2 separate regions of the Homo sapiens genome follow, and region 1 is linked to region 2. Evidence: fine-mapped expression QTL. A gene starts in region 2. The other region holds a variant in brackets. All regions are shown on one strand. Distances are between the middles of the regions. Region 1 overlaps LNCRNA-IUR (lncRNA imatinib upregulated). Region 2 holds the start of ENDOD1 (endonuclease domain containing 1).

The links. PIP is the estimated chance that this variant, and not a neighbour inherited with it, causes the effect.
Region 1: its variant is fine-mapped to the expression of ENDOD1 in whole blood (INTERVAL, PIP 0.95).

What each region holds. Positions count from the first base shown.
Region 1 is chr11:95,151,857-95,154,765 of GRCh38, forward strand. All of the region lies in intron 1 of LNCRNA-IUR (lncRNA imatinib upregulated), which reads left to right. Among named protein-coding and RNA genes, the nearest start is that of LNCRNA-IUR, 2.8 kb to the left of the region's middle. The variant T/C (reference allele first, on the strand shown) is at 1,786.
Region 2 is chr11:95,088,405-95,091,313 of GRCh38, forward strand. ENDOD1 (endonuclease domain containing 1) reads left to right here and starts at 1,442. Exons shown (of 2, transcript NM_015036.3): 1 at 1,442-1,823. The coding sequence starts at 1,524. RefSeq lists enhancers at 844-1,123, 1,194-1,253 and a silencer at 1,264-1,693.

The DNA.
Region 1 (2,909 bases), 63 kb after region 2:
GGCTTCTCTCACATATGCAGTAAGGGTTAGGGGAGAAGGTCCCAGCTCCTCTTGTCTCTAGCAGAGTGTAAACTGGCTCTGCTGAGGAGGTGGCTGTGCTTTTATTCCTTCTCCTGAGAACTGTTTATATATTAAGGAGCTTCACAGCCTCCAACATAAGGAAAGCAGGTAGGAACTGATCATATAACGCTTTGTAAATGTTTTAGACTTTGGCTTTAATGGGAAAGAAATGGGGAGCCATTCGTGGGTTTTTGAGCAGCAGGTGGACATTGCTTTTCATAATGACCACGCCAGCTGCTGTTTGGAGAATAGACTGTAGGGGTCACTGCGCAAATTGGAGGCCGCGATCCAGGTGAGAACCAGGTGAAACAGAGCTCGGGCCATGGAGTGGCGCTGGAGGTAAGGAGAAACACTCAGACTCTGGGTATGTTTTTTGAAAGTAGGATAAAAGGCCGGGCGCGGTGGCTCACGCCTGTAATCCCAGCACTTTGGGAGGCCAAGGTGAGCGGATCAAGAGGTCAGGAGATCGAGACCATCCTGGCTAACACGGTGAAACCCCGTCTCTACTAAAAAAAAAAAAAAAAAAAAATTAGCAGGGAGTGGTGGCAGGTGCCCGTAGTCCCAGCTACTCGGGAGGCTGTGGCAGGAGAATGGTGTGAACCTGGGAGGCAGAGCTTGCAGTGAGCCGAGATGGCGCCACGGCACTCCAGCCTGGGCGACAGAGCGAGACTCTGTCTCAGTCAATCAATCAATCAATAAAAATACAAAACATTAGCTGGGTGTGATGGTGTGCACCCTTAATCCCACCTACTCGGGAGGCTGAGGCAAGAGAATAGCGTGAACCCAGGAGGCAGAGGTTTCAGTGAGCCGAGATTGCGCCATTGCACTCCAACCGGGGCGAAGATTTACATATATATAAGATTTTCTGTCTGATTGTTTTTTTGGGTATGAGAAAAAGACAGGAATCAGGGATGACTCCAAGCAGCTGGAAAAACGGAGATGCTGCTGGCTGAGATTGGAAGATGCTGGGGTAGAGGGATAAGACAGCTTAATGTTATATATTTTAGGTTTGAGGTGTTCATTAGAAAAACAAGTGGAGAGATTGATTGGGCAGACACACAGGTCTGGAGAGGGCTGGGCTGGAGATAGAAATATGGGTTGCCATGATACAGGCATGGGACTGAAAGCCCCATCAGTCCCTTGGAGAGATCATCAGAGAGTGAGTAGAGACATAGCAGGGCGAAGCCCTGAGCCCCGGTTCCCCCAGCATGTACCTGCAGTCTGTTTCCTCTTCTCAACTACAATTCCCATGGTCTTGTCTTGTTCACAGAACCTGCTCAAGGAGCATCTATTAAATGAAGGAACCCAACTTTCATCACATGTAAAATAAACATCATTATAATCCTACCTCATAAGGTTGTTGTCAGAAAAAGTTAAACGTCGTAATGAAAGTGAAACTGCGTTATGATTGGTAGATGCCTGCTATATTTTAAAATGTAGGCTTCATTATCTCATTCTGTACAGCTTGTATTACTTGATTGTATCTTCACAGTTTCTGATGCATGCAAGGCAGACACTCTCGTTCTCACTTTATTGACGAGGAAAGTAGGATTGGTGAGACAAAATAAGTCCCTGAAGCTGCATATCTAATGGTAACACCAGTGGCTGACCTGTTTGAGCACATCTGCGGCAGGCACTGTGTTAATGATTTTGCATGTGTTATCTGGCAACAACACAGCGAGGTGGGGGTTATTATCTTCACTTGCACATGAGGAAACTGAAGCA[T/C]AGAGAGGGTGGTTAACTTAGCCAAGGTCCCATAGTGAGTGGTTGGAAGAGTCTGGGCCATGAAGCAGACCTGCCCATCCTGATTCAATGTTCTTTTTGCAGCCTGATAGCTCCTCTTCTTCATCCCCCTACTAGACTCCTGCCAGGGCCAAGCCTCACCACTCCTTCCCTTGACATTGGCAACATTCCTCTCTCCTTAACGTTTCTCTCCTACCAAGCCTGCTTGCTGCAGGATACAAGAGTTCAGTCACTCCTTGGGAACAACCTGCAGGTCAAAACATTTTGGCTTATTGCTTCCCCTTTCTGGAAAGTCCTTTCCCTTCCTCTCTGCCTTATGAACTCCTATGTGTTCTTCCAAACCCTGGTGAACTCCTATGTGGTTTTCCAAGTCCAATTAATATGTCACCTCTGTTGTGAAGCTTTCCCTGCTTGCACCAGACAAGAGGCATGACTTAGATCATGTGACACTTTGTTTATAGGTCTATCAAAACAAACTGACAATTTCCTGTGGGTTTGACTGATGCCCCTGTAATATTGTGATTTTTCTCTCAGGTTCTTATATTTTCATGTCTTTTTATCCAACATGCTGTTTGCTTCGTGAATACATAAATGAATGACCCATTTACAATCACTATCAAAGCAAATTTATGGATATCAAATATTCTTCTAGAGATGAGGAAATAGGCTAAAAGGAGTGATTTGCCTAAAGTCACTCAACTGATTAAATACTGGAGCTTTGCTGGGTATGATTATGCGTGCCTATAATCCCAGCTACTCAGGAAGCTAAGGTGGGGGCAGAGGGGGTGGGTGGCAATGACCGCTTGAGCTCAACAGTTTGAAGCCAGTCTGGCTAGCATAGTGAGACTCTGCCTCAAATAAATAAACATAAATAAATAACATAAATATTGCAGCATGAACTCAAGAGAGGTGAGGAGATTTTGTCTGGTGAAACTCAAGATTTCACATGCCTATTGCTTCCCTCTCTGGCATCTAGGGTCCTGGAACCCTCCTCCAAATGCTCCTGCAGGTGGCAACAGAGGCCAAGGAAAGGTGAAGCATTCTGGCAGAAGTTCTGGAGACAGATGAGAAGCTGAGCTCCCTGAGGGCAGGGGCAAGGTGACTTG
Region 2 (2,909 bases):
ATTCTGTGCCACTTCAATCTACCAGTCTCTTCCCTGATAGCAAAAAGAATCGAGTCACCACCTTTAAAAGATGAAAATCCTCAACATGATTTACAATATTTTTTCCAAACTGCAGGTCATGAGCCATTAGTGGCTCATAGAAACAATTTAGTGGGTCAACACCAGCACTTTTTTAAAAAAGTGAAGTAGAACAGAAATATGAAATTGCAATGCCAATCATAAGCATAAGAATTATTTCATCAAACTTTTCTCATTATGGGCCTTCTCAAAAAGTGTTTGAAGGCCTCTGGCCTATAATAACCTGAGTAATATGACCCCTGCCTCCTCCTTTAGCCCCACTTCCCATCATCCCCCACGCGGTTCTCCGCGCTTTACCCACACTAGCCTTCCTTAAATTCCTCCAATACATCATGTTCCCTTCTGTGGGAGACCACTTAGCACATGGTTTTCCTCCTTGCCTAGTTAATGTCATCCTCCAGGTCTCAGCTCAGATGCCACTTCTTCAGGCAAACCTTCCCGGATTACATCCTGAACCCCTGTAGCTGTCAGGGTCTCACAGATCTGTGTTCAGTTTTTAGTTATCCCTTTAATAGCATGTTTCCTCGGTTAATGACAAACTTTCCCACTAGGCTGTCTTTGTGACCGCAGGAGCCCTGCTCTTGTTTACCCCTGTGGTAATCCAGTGCCTATCTCAGGCTGGCACCTAGGCATTCAGAGGGATAAATGAAGGAAAGAATTGGCCAACCTGTTGACCAATGACGTTGGCTGGCCTCCTTCCTTGCTTGGTATCGGTTTTGTTTCTAACACTTGCACCAAGAAAACCACACAGGGTTATACTGTCTGCCTAGTTTAGGAACTTCCTTTAACAGTATTTCTTTACTCTCTGAGTTTCTGGTGAGCTAAAAAAACATAACAAAAAACAAAAAACTCCATCAAAATTGTATGCGTGTGCTGGTCGTTGAGTACTTCGGTGGAGAGTGGGAGACGCATCTTCATGAAATTTCAGAGGGGAACTCTGCCCATCCACTCCGAACCAGCCGCAGCTCCACGAGCATCTCACGCCACCCCTCTGCATCACCAGGGCGGCCGTGGGGCGCGCGCGATCAGCAGGCTTCTTGGCGCCCAGTCCATGCGACTATCTCTTCCCAGCCCCGGGACTAGGCCCGCCCCACTCGGATTCTCCACTCTTGGTAGCGCGCGTCCCCCGGACTGCTGAGACCAGGCGGCGCGGAGGCAGGTGACCCGCGTCTCCAGTCCCGGGCGCAGCCCAGGGTACGTTGTCAGCATCGCGGAGCGCGGCCCTGGGCCTCTGCAGCCATCTTCAGGGAGGGAGGCGCGGCCTCCCGACGCGGACCCGCCCCCGCCGCCCGGGCCGCCCCGCCCGGCTCCGCAGAGCGCCGCGCCTAGGTTGCGACTTCCCTTCCCTACCCTGCTCGGCTGCGTAGTGCGCTCCCCGCCCAGCCTGCAGAGCTCGCGCCGCGGCAGCCCAGCCGCTCGGCCCCGCCGCGCTCGCAGAGGCCGCCATGGGCACCGCGCGCTGGCTCGCGCTGGGCAGCCTCTTCGCCCTGGCTGGGCTGCTGGAAGGCCGGCTCGTGGGCGAGGAGGAAGCCGGCTTTGGCGAATGTGACAAGTTCTTCTACGCCGGGACCCCGCCTGCGGGGCTGGCGGCCGATTCCCACGTGAAGATCTGTCAGCGCGCGGAGGGTGCTGAGCGCTTCGCCACCCTCTACAGCACCCGGGACCGCATCCCCGTGTACTCCGCGTTCCGCGCCCCGCGCCCTGCGCCCGGCGGCGCCGAGCAGCGATGGCTGGTGGAGCCGCAGGTAAGCGAAGTGGTTCCCGAGCCGGGCTGCGGGCGCCGGAGACCGTGCCGCTGGACATGCCCCCAGTTGCAGCTACCGCGAGGGGCGGGCCGGGAACAGCAATCCCTACGCCTTCGGTGCCTTGGGCCAAGAAACCCGGGTTCCAGGTCCACCCTGTTGCGTCCCCGGAGTTAGCCTGCCTCGCCCCTGTCGAGCTACAATAAGAGCCTGGCGATCTGCGAGCCTTCACTTCATGAGCTGCAGGGCGGGAGGTCCCCTGTGGGAGGAGGTTCTCCCTGCATTTCTGAGCAGACATCCGCAGTGTTTCATTCCTGAATGGTGAAGAGCTTGATACAGAGACCCTGGAGACCGTTCAGATCCGCAGAAAGCCTAGGCTGGGCGCTCACAGGCCTTCGTGCAACTTATTGCCATAGCACTCATTTGGAGGTGGGTAGGTGGGCATTTTCATCCCCATTTTACAGAAGAGGAGATAAACCCAGGGGGTGAAGAGACATATGGAAGACTACCCAGTTAGTAAGATGGGGCAGGTCTCTGTCTAGAAATTCACTGCCTTTTCTACTAAGTAAAGCTTCTCTTCTGCAGAGCTCATCCTAGCCTGAAAATCCTTCCTCTACCACGGCGTTGAGTAAATTCGATCTGCGGTTGTGTTGAATTAGAACAATGAAATAAAGATACAGATTTTTAGAAACGCAATGGGGTAGTTAAAAATGATAGGGAAACATTGACTACCTCCAACTGATGGAAAGATAAGCCAGTTTTTCCTGACTCCTCATATCTATATTATCATACCACTAGGAAATCGTGTCACCTCTCATGGTGTTCTGTCCCGTCTGGTAAAGGTGACCAAACACTTGAGAAGCCCTCAGAGTCTTCCGAACCTGCTGGCCTGCTCTTAATACCTCTCCTCAGTTGGCCTCCTCTCTAGAACACCCTGCCAGACTCCCCTTTGCCCTCTCACCAGCCTCCCACCCCTGCCCAGGCTGCTGGGGGAAGAACTGACCCAACGCTCTCCCTTTCCTGACGGCCACAGCTGCCCAGGACCACACCAGTGGACAGGAGGCTGGCTTTCAGGTGCTTTATTCAGAG